3 separate regions of the Homo sapiens genome follow, and regions 1 and 3 are each linked to region 2. Evidence: fine-mapped expression QTL. A gene starts in region 2. Each other region holds a variant in brackets. All regions are shown on one strand. Distances are between the middles of the regions.

Region 1 (5,000 bases), 33 kb after region 2:
TCCAGTTTTCGATGTGAGTTTGAGCATGATCGTAGGCAAGGGCCCATCAATGAAGGTGTTGAGGATATAGCATTGTCCTGCTTTGGCTCAAGGGGACTTTTCCTGCCTTTGATTAAGGATTGGCATGGGTGAGTCATTTCCCATAGTCTGAGGGATGTGGGATATAAAGAATGAATTGTTATCTCCGATGATATCTTGAATATCACACATTATAGGCCAAATATAGGTGCTAAACCATTTGGCTTGAATTCTTTATAGAAAATTCACTGGGAACCCAATGATAAAATAGAGAAAGACGGATAACCTAAGAGGGAGGAGCAATCTGGTGAGACATTCTTTTCACCTTTTCACACATGAGCAATTAAAAACTTGAGGGAAGTTGATTTTTTTTTTAACTCTGTAAATAGCTACTGGTATAATTCCTTGAGGCTGGTATTGTATTTTGTGCTATAAGAAGAGAGACTTGGCTGGGCGCGGTGGCTCACGCCTGTCATCCCAGCACTTTGGGAGGCCAAGGCAGGCAGATCACGAGGTCAGGAGATCGAGACCACCCTGGATAACATGGTGAAACCCTGTCTCTACTAAAAATACAAGAAATTAGCCGGGTGTGGTGGCAGGCACCTGTAGTCCCAGCTACTCGGGAGGCTGAGGCAGGAGAATGGCGTGAACCTGGGAAGTGGAGCTTGCAGTGAGCAGACATCACGCCACCTCACTCCAGCCTGGGTGACAGAGCGAGACTCTGTGTCAAAAAAAAAAAAAAAAAAAAAAAAGGTCTTATTTGGCCGGGTGCGGTGGCTCATGCCTGTAATTCCAGCACTTTGGGAGGCCGAGGCGGGCGGATTACGAGGTCAGGAGATCGAGATCATCCTGGATAACATGGTGAAACCCCGTCTTTACTAAAATACAAAAAATTAGCCAGGTGTGGTGGCGGGTGCCTGTAATCCTAGCTACTCAGGAGGCTGAGGCAGTAGAATCACTTTTCACTCAGGAGGCGGAGGTTGCAGTGAGCCGAGATCGCACCACTGCACTCCAGCCTGGCGACAGAGCAAGACTCTGTCTCAAAGAAAAAAAAAAAGAAGAGAGACGGGCCATATACTCAAGGAGTTTCCAAATATATCCAGAGGTGAAACAAACATCTAGGATGAAAAGGGTCCAGGGACTAGTATTGTACACAGTCAGAGGAGGTAGAGGGCTGTGAGTTTGGTAATAAGAGAGGAGGCTTGGGAAACCCAGCCTGAGTCTAGGTCCAGAGGGCAGCATGCACTGGGTGAGGGCCTCTAGGGAGAGTAAAGCAGGATACATTCTTGTCCTTATACTTCCTTCCCTGTTTCTGTACCTGCTCACTTTTGCCCTGCAACAAATAAACCTTTAAGCATCTGTTCTCAGCCTGGCCTTGCACTGGGCAAAACTGGAAACATGGGCATTATGAAACCTGGGCCATACATCTAGAAGTGCTTAATATATTGTGAGAGGTGAACCTGGAAACAATGGACTGTAATGGCATGGGTCAAGGTATGTAATAGACAGAGATGGATTTGATATATCAGAGTGCCGACCTACTGACTCTGTCTTGGGATTAGGTAAACCTACCTTTAAAAAGGCATTGAGACAGGGCCTGGTTAGAGAAACCTGTTAAGGTTATTGCCAGAAGATGAAGCGGAGGTACAGAATGCTACTTTTGGGGTATGGCTGCTTTAGGGCCTTTCATTTCGTTTTCAGATTTGATGAAAGAATAGGGCATCTGTGGCCAGGCGCAATGGCTCACACCAGTAATCCTAGCACTTTGGGAGGCCGAGACGGGCGGATCACGAGGTCAGGAGATTGAGACCATCCTGGCTAACATGGTGAAACCCTGCCTCTACTAAAAATACAAAAAATTAGCCGGACGTGGTGGCATGCACCTGTAGTCCCAGCTACTTGAGAGGCTGAGGCAGGAGAATCGCTTCAACCCGGGAGGCACGGAGGTTGCAATGAGTGGAGATCGCACCACTGCACTCCAGCCTGGGTGACAGAGTGAGACTCTGTCTCAAAAAAAAAAAAAAAAAATAGGACATCTGTGTCCAGGAATCTTTTTATCTCCCCACCACCCCTCAAGCAGTGCTGGGCTGACTGCAGAAGGCTCTTCCCTGTTCTGCACTTGTTCCATTTCTGTTTTTGAAAGATGAAGCCTGGGAGGTGCCAGAGCTATGCCAGCTGCTATGGGGCCAGAAACAGGTGAGGCTTTTAGGTCTGCTTGAGTTAAGGAGTGAGGGGTTTGTCCTCTTCAGCTAGCTTAAGGTCTCTGCTATGAAACTAGATAAGTATTCACATAGCTTGTTTTTCATTTGGGGCTATTTTCAGCCTTGGAGGCCAGCAAGGTGAATGATTGAGATGCTTTTATGGGGTTCAAGCTTTTGCTAGATCCTATTTGCCAGGATAGGTGCTCAGCCATTTTCCAGGACATCAGCTTTTCTGAACAAGCAGCACTGAAAGGAAGAAGCACTTCCCTTTTCTTTCAGGGGGCAGTATAGGAAATGTGAGGGTGGGTGGTCAGTTTAATATTATAACCCAGGTTTTAAGTAGAGAGGCTGTATAGTTTGGAACATTGCCATATA[G/C]TCTTTTTTTTTGAATTTTTGAGACAGAGTCTCCCTCTGTTGCCCAGGCTAGTGTGCAGTGGTGTGCTTTCTGCTCACTGCAGCCTCCACCTCCCAGATTCAAGGGATTTTCCTGCCTAAGCCTGGAGATTACAGGTGCACACCACCTGGGATTACAGGTGTGCACCACCATACCCAGCTGACTTTTTGTATTTTTAGTAGAGACGGGGTTTCACCATGTTGGCCAGGCTGGTCTTGAACTCCTGACCTCAAGTGATCCGCCCGTGTCGGCTTCCCAAAGTGCTGGGATTACAGGTGTTAGCCACCATGCCCGGCCGCCGTGTAGTCTTTAATGCAGTTTTGAGGGACTCATCTGAATTGTTCTTGTGTTTTTCTTGTCATCTTGACTGCCAGGCTTTACTATGGGGGTGGAGCTCTGTAAATGTATAGATCTGCTGCTGTCCAGAGACTTGATCTCTTTTGTGCTTGCACACCTCTAGGGCTAACAAAGCAGATGGAGTGGCCTGTACAAAGAGGTGATGCATCAGTGGTCTGTATCCAGGAGTGTTCTTGGGAGTTCCCTGTTTAGTGAGTGCTTACTATGTGCCAGGCAGCTGTGGCAACAGCAGTCATCATACTAGATGCTGAGGTTTTATCAGAGATACCTAAGGCAAGATCATTATCTTATCCCTGAGGCCCAACAAATAAATATTTGTTGTTTAATAAATGTTGATCCAAGGAATAAACTATATTTTAAAGGAACCCAGACACAGGGGGTGTGAGAAGGAAGCTAGCAGTCATTGAATGCCTACTATGTGCCAAGTACTGTGTTAAGTGCTTTCACAGATATTTAATTTTTTTTTTTTTTTTTGAGATAGAGTCTCGCTTTGTCGCCCAGGCTGGAGAGCAATGGCACGATTTTGGCTCACTGCAACCTTCACCTCCTGGGTCCAAGCGATTCTCTTACCTCAGCCTCCAGAGTAGCTGGGATTACAGGCACACGCCACCGCATCTGGCTAATTTTTTTATTTTTATTTTTTAGTAGAGATGGAGTTTCACCGTGGATACTTAATTTTTAATACGGTCTTCTGAGATTGTTAATGTTATTGATATCTTTGAGATGGACAAAATAAGAGGTTAAATTACTTGTTAAAGTCACTTTCTATTAGCCGTATCTAGGCGCTTTTTTGAGGGTCTGGCCTCTAGGTTTGGTAGATGCCTAACAGGGTAACCTTGTTTTTAGTATTGTTGGGTGAGTGGGGCTAGTCTGAGTCTTTTCAAAGTTGCAGGAGATGCAGTTTTCTAGGCTTGGTGCTGAAAATATAGATAAGGATAATATAAGGTACATAAACTGGAAGAATTACTATTGAGTGGGGAGACAGGTAAATAGGCATTACAGGGTAGTAAATATTAAGCAAAGACGGGCCTTTTTACTTTGTGAGAGGTACATTGGGCAGGGACTTTTACTCTGAGACTTCAACTCTTGTCCTTCTTTCCATACCTGTAGCTCCTCATTGGGATCTCCCTTATTCCCTGACCATGTGTTTCGACAGTTTCATGAGTGTTACTTTTTCATCAAGATTGCTTACTCCTTGAGACTAGATATTCTTTTTTTCTTTCTTACTGCCTCTTAGATATCTGACCTAGGCCATCACGCTTACCCTCTCTGGACCTTAGTGGCATTATCTGTAAAACAAGCCTAATGATAGGTGTTTTGCAATCTGAGAGCAGGGGCCAGTCCAAGTGGTGATCTCTGGAGGTTCATCTAGTTTTTCCAAATCTGTGATTTCTGTGATCATCCTCTTTTGGTCCTTATATAGAGCTGGATATCCAAGAGGCTTTAAGTTTGTCACAGAGATTGCTGAAGGTAATTTATGGTACCTCAGAAGTCTTAAGAACTTTTCTGTATCACCCCTGTTAGAGCTACATACCCAGTAGCACTGACAGAGACTCATGGCTTCTCCTGGCCAGTCCCTTGGACTGAACCAGTTTTCTCAGCCTGGTATGGAAGATTTGACTGAAGTTTTAAGCTCAAAAGGATATTGTGGCCGGGCATGGTGGCACACGCCTGTAATCCCAGCTACTCAGGAGGCTGAGGCAGGAGAATCGCTTGAACCTGGGAGGTGGAGGTTGCAGTGAGCCGAGATCACGCCACTGCACTCCAGCCTGGGTGATGGAGCAAGACTCTATTGCAAAAAAAAAGAAAAGCATATTGTATTTAAGTGTATTTTCTAGTATGGCTTATCTCATTATCAGCTAGGTCAACTAGAGGTAGTGCTTTCCTGATTTTGCTTCTAGAAGGCATTCTTTGAGCAGTGGGATAGGACCCCATCCTTAGGACTTTCACCTCTCCAGGTATTGGGCCAGAAGTCTAAAGCTCCATGAAATACTGTTTATGTACAATACCAGCTTGAGCTCTAAACTTGT
Region 2 (5,000 bases):
CTGGCTTAGGTAGAAATGATCAACTGTCAGTCTGAGTGATTAATCTGGGCTGCAGACATGTTTTCTGTGGCCTATATAAGGTTTTATCCTTTTAAACGAATTGCTAATATTTTTTTAAAAAGGATATGTCATATGAAAGTCCAGATTTCCATCTTCTCTCTCTCTCTTTTTTTTTTTTTTTAATTGAGACAGGGTCTTGCTCTGTTGCCCAGGCTGGAGTGCAATGGTGTGATCATGGCTCACTGCAGCCTTGAGCTCCTGGATTTAAGCGATCATCCCCCCTCAGCCTGCTGAGTAGCTGGGACCACAGAAGCCAGATACCACTCATGGCTAATTAAAAAAATTTTTTTTGTAGAGATGGGGGTCCCACTGTGTTTCCCAGGCTGGTCTTGAACTCATGGGCTCAAGTAATCCTCCCACTTTGGCCTCCCAGAGTGCTGGGATTAGAGATATGAGTCACTGCACCCAGCCCCATCTTCTCTTAATGACACTCCAGCAATACTAGGCCCATCTTTCTGCCTGCTCTCCACAGTCCCCACCACTCCGTATTACTCCTACCTACTTTTCTTAATTGAATTACCTACCTGCCCATTTTGCCATTTGAATTTAAGACCCCTGGCTCAGAGAATAGGTCTAGGAGAACCTAGGTAGGGTTTCAACTGTTCTGGTCAATTTTCCAATATTCCGGTATTAGTTTTTAGTATCTGAGTGTTCAAGTGAATTAACTCATGTAATCCAGCTTTTACAGAGAACTTACTATGTGCAGGGTCTATGGCTGGGTCCTAGTGTCACAGAGATGAATAAGGCACAGTCTCTGACCTGAAAAGTGGCAATCACTATCTGTTGGGGGAGGGGCAGACAGATGTAATGGTCCAATTTTGGCCACAGACTGATTTTGAAGGGGTGGGCAGAGTAAAAGTTTCTAAGGAGACACATTGAGCTGTATCTGGAAGAGTAAGAGACCAGCTACATGAGGAACTGGGAGCAGGCGAGAGTGTTTCATGCAGAAGCAACAGCAGATACAAAGGCTGTGAGGTGGCTGAGTTTGACGTGGTTAGGAACTTAACGAAGGCTAGTGTGACAGGAGCTTAACAGAGCCGGGAGAGTGGTAGTAGGTTACATTAGCCATGTATTTTTATATCAACGGCCTAACCCTTAAGCCAGGCAGCTGTTGGGCAAATTCGTGTTCCCAGTCTTCAGGGGCCTTGCTCAGAACAGGTAGCTGGTTTAGCACTGTCAGTCAGAGGAGGGACTGGGCCTGATCCTTTCCCCTGCGTCTGGTGCCAAGGACAGGGTAGGGCACAGAGGTTTCAGTCAAGATCTGCTGACAGCACGCTTGAGAAGAGAACAGGAAGTGCAGGCTTTGTTGAAGGAGGCTCAGGCGTGGCTCTGTCTTCTTTGGCGCACTCATTCTCAAGTCGCTGACACCTCCTCCACCAGAGAGGTAGCTGGGAGAATGAGATGCAGGGAGGAAGCATTTACAGGCCCCACCGAAAAACCTTAAAGGGCTGAGAGCTTGAGGGCAGGTAGGAAAAAGGGCTGTGAGAGCTAAGGGAGGGCATCCCACTTAGCTTGGAGGGGAAGGGAGGCGGGGTCGGGAAAGCAGATGGCACCCTTTAGCCCAGACTCAAGGAATGTGTAGGGGAATTTTAGCTAGAGTGGTTTGGACATTTCATTTTGCTTTCTGGCATCATCATTTCCTCAGAAAACACTCGCAGGCCCCAGTGGCCCTCGTGGGCCTCCCCCGGGGCGGGTCTTAGCTTCACTCGGCAACCCTCTGCAAAAGAGCAGGCCCTCCCAGGAGCGCCGAGTCCTGTCTGCAGTTTGCTGATTTTCCCACCAGGGGCCGCTGCGCATGGGCGACGAAGCGCGCGGGTTCCCAAGCCGCAGAGAGGCGGAAGCCGATTGGTTGTCAGGCGAGGCGCGAGGGCGGAGCCTGGGAACTGGCCGGGAGTTGGGGGCTGGGAGCTCGCCCCCGGGCCGAGCCGGGTCAGGCTGTTGTCGCCTCAGGCAGCTCCTGGGAGGCTAACGTCGTGTCCTGGGCCTCTGTTTAGACAGCTCTAGAACTGAGGCGAGTGGAGCAGCACCAAGGCCCGGAGATCGGGGCAGGGCAGCTGCTGTCGCCGCCGCCGCAGGCCTGAGTTACCTGAGTAACTGCGGGTCAGGGACCCGCCCGACGGCCCGCGGTTGGCGCTGGAGACTCTCGGTGGGGAAAGGGAAGCTGGGACTTGATCCTTTGCGCGGGATCCTGGCAAAGACTAGCGCGGGCCGGGGGTCCGGGAGAGCCCGCTAGGGGCGGGGATTCCGGGGAGCCGTCTTCACCGGTTATTCCGGGATCCAGCTGGGCGCTGGGGCTGGCCCGGGCTTCGCTGGGGACCGGGCGGCGCGGGGCGGGCGCGGAGACGCACGCCCCCGCCCGCCCCGGGCCCGCCCCGCGCCGCCCGCCCGCCTGGAAGCCGCTGTCCTGGGCCTGGCCGGTGTGCGTCCGCCTGCTGGACCTGGGCACCGCCAGCCGCCTGGGCACGGGACTGGGCGGGGGCGCTGACCTCGGCCTAGGAGGCCCAGGATCCCGGAGACGCCCGCGCCCTCAGGACCCTGCGGGTCGCACGCCCTCCCCAGCTTCTGCTGCTCGCCGCTCTTCGGCAGGGCGAGGTCAGGTGCCCCCTTCTCGCCTCTCTTCTCTTCTCTTCTCTTCCTCCTCCACTTCTGTGCCCGCGGAGACTCCGGCCGCCCCCTTCCGCAGGGGTGTAGTAATCTGCGGAGCTGACAGCAGCCCCGCAGCCACCCTGCCCGAAGTCTCCGGAAGCGGCACGAGCTCAGGCCGCCGCAGCCCCGGCGGACCCACTGTTGGACCTGAGGAGCCAGCCCTCCTCCCGCACCCAAACTTGGAGCACTTGACCTTTGGCTGTTGGAGGGGGCAGGCTCGCGGGTGGCTGGACAGCTGCGGAGCCGCGAGGGCATCTTGCCTGGAGACCGTCGGCTGCACTCCCGGGCTCCTGGCTTTGCCTCTGGGATCCCGAGGTGTCCACATCAGACGCATGTTGACTGAGACCTAGAGTCATGGATGTATGCGTCCGTCTTGCCCTGTGGCTCCTCTGGGGACTCCTCCTGCACCAGGGCCAGAGCCTCAGCCATAGTCACAGTGAGAAGGCGACAGGAACCAGCTCGGGGGCCAACTCTGAGGAGTCCACTGCAGCAGGTAAGGCCTTGCTGCGGGCTGGACTGGGCTGGAGGCTTTGGCTCAGGACTGAGTGGCCCGAAGTGGGCAAGTTGAAATCTAGGTTTGTACATGTGAGGTTCATGGAGGATTCACACATGGCACTGCCTGTTCCAAGTAGTTCAAGAAGTTCTTTCTGGTCAGTAGTCATGGCAAATGCCTGTATCTTTCCTGAACAACTTTCCTCATCCCCCGCACTCAGGATTTTTTTTGTTGGCAGTAAGAAGAAGCCTTTGGGGCAACTTGACCTTTTAGATCAGCAAGGAAAGACCCCATCTTAGGCCTACTTGTCTGGAAGAATGGCCTGGTGAGATGATAAGTTCATTGCTCCTATTCGGTTTTAGTACTGAGCAGCATGGGGGAGGTTGGGGCCACTTATGTTGGAAAGGGAAAGTTAAGGCTGGGCCACCTCTGTTGCCTGAAAGCCTGGTGTTCAGGTGTGCCTATTCCAACAACCGTGGGAACCCTAGTCCCACCCTTCCCTTAGGTAGTCTTGTCTCTTTGCTGTGCGCATTTGAAATATCCAGGCGGTTTCTTAGATGGAATCCTATTTACAACTAGGGTGTTAAATGGCCTTTTCTTGACATAGACATGATATAATTCCTGGGACCACTTGTTGACTTATTCTGTTTCTTCTGACTGATGAGGGTGGGAATTCCATGCTACAGGTTTTTTTTTTTGTTTTTTTTTTTTTTTCCCTGAGTCTGCTTGCTAGGGAAACCATGCTACTTTTGATCTGTCATGGTTTTTCCTATGCAGTTGTGAAGGCTTATCAGGCAGCAGGAGCCCTGGTATACTTTTGCAGTAGAAAGGAACACTTTTATGTTTTGTTTTGTTTTTTTGAGACAGGGTCTTGATCTGTCGTCCAAGCTGGAATGCAGTAGTGTGATCACAGCTCACTACAGCCTCAAACTCCTGGGTTCAAGTGATCCTCCTGCCTCAGCCTCCCGGTAGCTGGGACTAAACACAAGAGCCACTGGGCCTGGCTAACTTTTTTTTTCTTTCTATTTTTAATTTTTTGAACAGACACTGTCTCTCTGTGTTGTGCAGGGATCCCTCCCAAAGTGCTGGGATTACAGGTGTGAGCCACTGTACCCATCAAGGAACTCTATTAAAATCCAGTCATTTTACATAAGGCTTACGAGATCAGTTCTCTTTTCCCATTTCTCTCACCCTTTGGCTGTGATCTGCCCAAAGCTGTGACCTGCAGTGTGGGGAGAGTTTATAGATGAGTTGTTTCTGAGCATAAGCAAGTTCAAATGAGGGAATGGCTCAGTGGGCACCTGCTGATACAAGTCAGAAAAGGAAATATAGGTCATGGTGGCTGGGGAGTTTCATGGATGGATCCAGAAGCTGGCTTTGGTGGTAGACCCTTTATTGGGCAATACCCTTTTAAGTTCCAGATGTTCCAAGAGGTCTGGTTTCCAAATGAGGCCAGGGTTGCCCATGTGTAAGTAGGATACCTGGCTGTTGCTTTCTAGATAGATCCTTTTTGCCTATTAATCCTGTCTCTCCATAGAGAGTCTCCTTGACCTTTGAGACCTGGCTGAAAGCTTGGTTCTTATTGGGCTATGAAGGGAAAGACTAGTGGGCAAATGTAGATTGAACTGTGAAGTAGACCTAATTATCATCTCTTCCTGTCCCTGTGACATTCCTATTTATAACTGATAATATGTCTTTTTTCACTCCAAAATATGAGTGCCTGACATAAGATGAATATTTTTTGGAGAGTGGGTGTTCTATATTTTAGACATAAGCTAAAGGGATGAAATTTTGAATGTAG
Region 3 (5,000 bases), 45 kb after region 2:
TGGTGTATATGTGCCACATTTTCTTAGTCCAGTCTACCATTGTTGGACATTTGGGTTGGTTCCAAGTCTTTGCTGTTGTGAATAATGCCGCAATAAACATACGTGTGCATGTGTCTTTATAGCAGCATGATTTATAGTCCTTTGGGTTATACCCAGTAATGGGATGGCTGGGTCAAATGGTATTTCTAGTTCTAGATCCTTGAGGAATCGCCACACTGACTTCCACAATGGTTGAACTAGTTTATAGTCCCACCAACAGTGTAAGAGTGTTCCTATTTCTCCACATCCTCTCCAGCACCTGTTGTTTCCTGACTTTTTAATGATTGCCATTCTAACTGGTGTGAGATGGTATCTCATTGTGGTTTTGATTTGCATTTCTCTGATGGCCAGTGATGGTGAGCATTTTTTCATGTGTCTTTTGGCTGCATAAATGTCTTCTTTTGAGAAGTGTCTGTTCATGTCCTTTGCCCACTTTTTGATGGGGGTTGTTTGTTTTTTTCTTGTAAATTTGTTTGAGTTCATTGTAGATTCTGGATATTAGCCCTTTGTCAGATGAGTAGGTTGTGAAAATTTTCTCCCATTTTGTCAGTTGCCTGTTCACTCTGATGGTAGTTTCTTTTGCTGTGCAGAAGCTCTTTAGTTTAATTAGATCCCATTTGTCAATTTTGGCTTTTGTTGCCATTGCTTTTGGTGTTTTAGACATGAAGTCCTTGCCCATGCCTATGTCCTGAATGGTAATGCCTAGGTTTTCTTCTAGGGTTTTTATGATTTTAGGTCTAACGTTTAAGTCTTTAATCCATGTTGAATTAATTTTTGTATAAGGTGTAAGGAAGGGATCCAGTTTCAGCTTTCTACATATGGCTAGCCAGTTTTCCCAGCACCATTTATTAAATAGGGAATCCTTTCCCCATTGCTTGTTTTTCTCAGGTTTGTCAAAGATCAGATAGTTGTAGATATGCGGCGTTATTTCTGAGGGCTCTGTTCTGTTCCATTGATCTATATCTCTGTTTTGGTACCAGTACCATGCTGTTTTGGTTACTGTAGCTTTGTAGTATAGTTTGAAGTCAGGTAGCGTGATGCCTCCAGCTTTGTTCTTTTGGCTTAGGACTGACTTGGCGATGTGGGCTCTTTTTTGGTTCCACATGAACTTTAAAGTAGTTTTTTCCAATTCTGTGAAGAAAGTCATTGGTAGTTTGATGGGGATGGCATTGAATCTATAAATTACCTTGGGCAGCATGGCCATTTTCACGATATTGATTCTTCCTACCCATGAGCATGGAATGTTCTTCCATTTGTTTGTATCCTCTTTTATTTCACTGAGCAGTGGTTTGTAGTTCTCCTTGAAGAGGTCCTTCACATCCCTTGTAAGTTGGATTCCTAGGTATTTTACTCTCTTTGAAGCAATTGTGAATGGGAGTTCACTCATGATTTGGCTCTCTGTTTGTCTGTTATTGGTGTATAAGAATGCTTGTGATTTTTGTACATTGATTTTGTATCCTGAGAGTTTGCTGAAGTTGCTTATCAGCTTAAGGAGATTTTGGGCTGAGACAATGGGGTTTTCTAGATATACAATCATGTCATCTGCAAACAGGGACAATTTGACTTCCTCTTTTCCTAATCGAATACCCTTTATTTCCTTCTCCTGCCTAATTGCCCTGGCCAGAACTTCCAACACTATGTTGAATAGGAGTGGTGAGAGAGGGCATCCCTGTCTTGTGCCAGTTTTCAAAGGGAATGCTTCCAGTTTTTGTCCATTCAGTATGATATTGGCTGTGGGTTTGTCATAGATAGCTCTTATTATTTTGAGATACATCCCATCAATACCTAATTTATTGAGAGTTTTTAGCATGAAGCGTTGTTGAATTTTGTCAAAGGCCTTTTCTGCATCTATTGAGATAATCATGTGGTTTTTGTCTTTGGCTCTGTTTATATGCTGGATTACATTTATTGATTTGTGTATATTGAACCAGCCTTGCATCCCAGGGATGAAGCCCACTTGATCATGGTGGATAAGCTTTTTGATGTGCTACTGGATTCGGTTTGCCAGTATTTTATTGAGGATTTTTGCATCAATGTTCATCAAGGATATTGGTCTAAAATTCTCTTTTTTGGTTGTGTCTCTGCCCAGCTTTGGTATCAGGATGATGCTGGCCTCATAAATTGAGTTAGGGAGGATTCCCTCTTTTTCTATTGATTGGAATAGTTTCAGAAGGAATGGTACCAGTTCCTCCTTGTACCTCTGCCTAAGCAAGCCTGGGCAATGGCAGACGACCCTCCCCCAGCCTCACTGCTGCCTTGCAGTTTGATCTCAGACTGCTGTGCTAGCAATCAGCAAGACTCCCTGGGCGTATGACCCTCCGAGCCAGGTGCGGGATACAATCTCCTGGTGCGCTGTTTTTTAAGCCCGTGGGAAAAGCGCAGTATTGGGGTGGGAGTGACCCGATTTTCCAGGTGCCGTCTGTCGTCCCTTTCTTTGACTAGGAAAGGGAACTCCCTGACCCCTTGCACTTCCCGAGTGAGGCAATGCCTCGCCCTGCTTCGGCTCGTGCACGGTGCGC[C/T]GCACCCACTGTCCTGCACCCACTGTCTGGCACTCCCCAGTGAGATGAACCCGGTACCTCACATGGAAATGCAGAAATCACCATCTTCTGCAGCGCTCATGCTGGGAGCTGTAGGCCAGAGCTGTTCCTATTCGGCCATCTTGGCTCCCGACCTGTTTGTTTGTTTTTTGAGACAGAGTCTTTCCCTCTATTGCCCAGGCTAGAGTGCAGGTTTGCGATCACAGCTCACTGCAGCCTTCTGGGCACAAATGATCCTCCCACCTCAGCCTCCCAAGTATCTGGGACTACAGGCACACCCCGCCATGCCTGGCTAATATATTTTTTGTAGAGATGGGTTCTCACTCTGTTGCCTAAGCTGGTCTTGAACTCCTGGACTCAAGCAGTCTTCCCACCTTGGCTTCCCAAAGTGTTGGGATTACAGGCATGAGCCACTGTGGCTGGCCCAATGCATTGTTTTAAGATATAATGAGTGTAGTGGCTAGGCACGGTGGCTCACACCTGTAATCCCAGCACTTTGGGAGGCTGAGGCAGTCGGATCACTTGAGGTCAGGAGTTCAAGACTAGCCTGGCCAACATGGCGAAACCCTGTCTCTATTAAAAATACAAAAATTAGCCGGGCATGGTGGTGTGCGCTTGTAGTCCCATCTGCTCTGGAGGTTGAGGCAGGAGAATTGCTTGAACCCAGGAGGCGGAGGCTGCAGTCACACCACTGCACTCCAGCCTGGGCGACAGAGAGAGACTCAGCCTCAAAAAAATAAATAAAATAAGTGTTCTTCAGAATGTCAGTATCAGGTGAAATGGCATTATTATTATTACTCAGTAAAAGACCTTTGAGATTAAGTTAGGAAAAGCTAGGAGGCTTTAATATGATAAGGAAAGGTATACAGGGTTTTCTATGTTTTTCTGAACATGTAATCTTTTTTTATCCTCAAAAACCACCTATTGACATTTTGTTAGATACCAGTGTTCCACAGAACACCATTAGGTAAATGAACACAGTGTGGTCCCCTGCTTTTCTATTAGTATGACTTGGAGAAGTAGTATGGCCAGCTGTCCTTTAGTTGACAAGGTACCTCCATGGCTCCTTTTCAAAGAGAAAATGAGATACTTAATGACAGCTTATGTGTCAGAAAATCTCCTAAGTGTTTAACATAGATTACATCTTTGTGTTCACAATAGCTCTATGAGATTGCTGATATAGTTTTCTCCATGTTGTTGTTGTAGAAAGGTATAGATCTTGGTTAATCCACCAGTCCCTGGTTATGTCTCAGACTCAGTGGTAGGAGATTTAGCTAACTGAGCTTTTATTGTTTGCCTAAGCCTTCTTCATTTTTTTCTTTTGAGATAGCATCTCGCTCTGTTGCCCAGGCTGGAGTACACTCCAGCAGTGCAGCCACAGCTCACTGCACCCTTGACTTCCTGGGCTCAGGTGATCCTCCTGCCCCAGGCTCCAGTCTCCTGAGTAGCTGAAACTACAGGCACGTGCCACGATGCCCAGCTAATTTTTGTATTTTTTGTAGAGACGGGGTTTTGCCATATTGCCCAGGCTGGTCTCGAACTCGTGAGCTCAAGCAATCTTCCTGCCTTGGTCCCCCAAAGTGCTGGGATTACAGGCATGAGCCAATGTGGCTGGCCCCCAACATTTCTTAAACATTTATTGTTCTTGGGTAATGGAGATGTAGTGATGGAAAACCAGACACTGCCTCATGGAACTTAATCTAATAGAGATGATTAGATATGAGTGTGGAAGTATAAGTTACACATTGGGACTTTAGAGGTTAAGGGAAGGCAGATATTTTTATGAGTTACTGTAGCTTCCTGGGATGGTGTGACTTAACTAATCCCTAAAACTCTGTTTAAGTTTATATACTGCAGAAGCTTGGGAGGCATTTAGATTGGAAAATGACCTGAGTGAAAATAGGAGTGAGCAGAGAGCAGCGATCCCCAATCTTTTTGGCACCAGGGATCGGTTTCATGCAAGATAATTTTTCCACAGACCAGGGTGCGGGGTGGGGATGATTTTGGGATGAAACTGTTTCACTTCAGATCATCAGGCATTAGATTCTCATAAGGAGCACGCAACCTAGATTCCTCGCATGTGCAGTTCACAATAGGCTTTGCACTCCTGTGAGAACCTAATGCTGCCACTGATATGACAGGAGGCGGAGCTCAGGCAGTAATGCTCGCTTGCCTGCCGCTCACCTCCTGCTGTGTGGCCTGGTTCCTAACAAGGCACGGACTGGTACAGTCTGCAGCCTGAGGGTTGGGGACCCTTGGCATAGGGAATAGAATGCTCAGGAGAAGGTGGTATCCTGTACTGCTCTTAGGCATGACACCACCTGTGAGACTGCTGAAGGCGTTAATTTCTGGCCAGCTGAAGGTAGCATTGCCAGAAGGAGGAGCTGGGCAGATTGCAATTGGTGTTGTGGATAGAGGCAAAGG

What was found. PIP is the estimated chance that this variant, and not a neighbour inherited with it, causes the effect.
Region 1: its variant is the best candidate, but not a certain one, in a credible set for the expression of STIM1 in whole blood (TOPMed, PIP 0.55).
Region 3: its variant is the best candidate, but not a certain one, in a credible set for the expression of STIM1 in monocytes (TOPMed, PIP 0.79).

Annotation. Positions count from the first base shown.
Region 1 is chr11:3,885,942-3,890,941 of GRCh38, forward strand. The region is part of intron 1 of STIM1 (stromal interaction molecule 1); the gene reads left to right. Among named protein-coding and RNA genes, the nearest start is that of PPIAP40, 5.1 kb to the right of the region's middle. The variant G/C (reference allele first, on the strand shown) is at 2,595.
Region 2 is chr11:3,853,211-3,858,210 of GRCh38, forward strand. It overlaps STIM1 (stromal interaction molecule 1), which reads left to right and starts at 2,454. Exons shown (of 13, transcript NM_001382567.1): 1 at 2,454-3,199. The coding sequence starts at 3,061. It overlaps STIM1-AS1 (STIM1 antisense RNA 1), which reads right to left and starts at 2,368. Exons shown (of 2, transcript NR_183662.1): 1 at 2,147-2,368; 2 at 1,113-1,448. MIR4687 (microRNA 4687) reads left to right here and starts at 2,852; the gene lies at 2,852-2,931. RefSeq lists enhancers at 1,430-1,499, 1,709-2,654, 2,870-3,079, 3,230-3,309, 3,320-3,369 and silencers at 1,840-1,889, 2,370-2,429, 2,490-2,649.
Region 3 is chr11:3,897,875-3,902,874 of GRCh38, forward strand. All of the region lies in intron 1 of STIM1 (stromal interaction molecule 1), which reads left to right. Among named protein-coding and RNA genes, the nearest start is that of PPIAP40, 6.8 kb to the left of the region's middle. The variant C/T (reference allele first, on the strand shown) is at 2,559.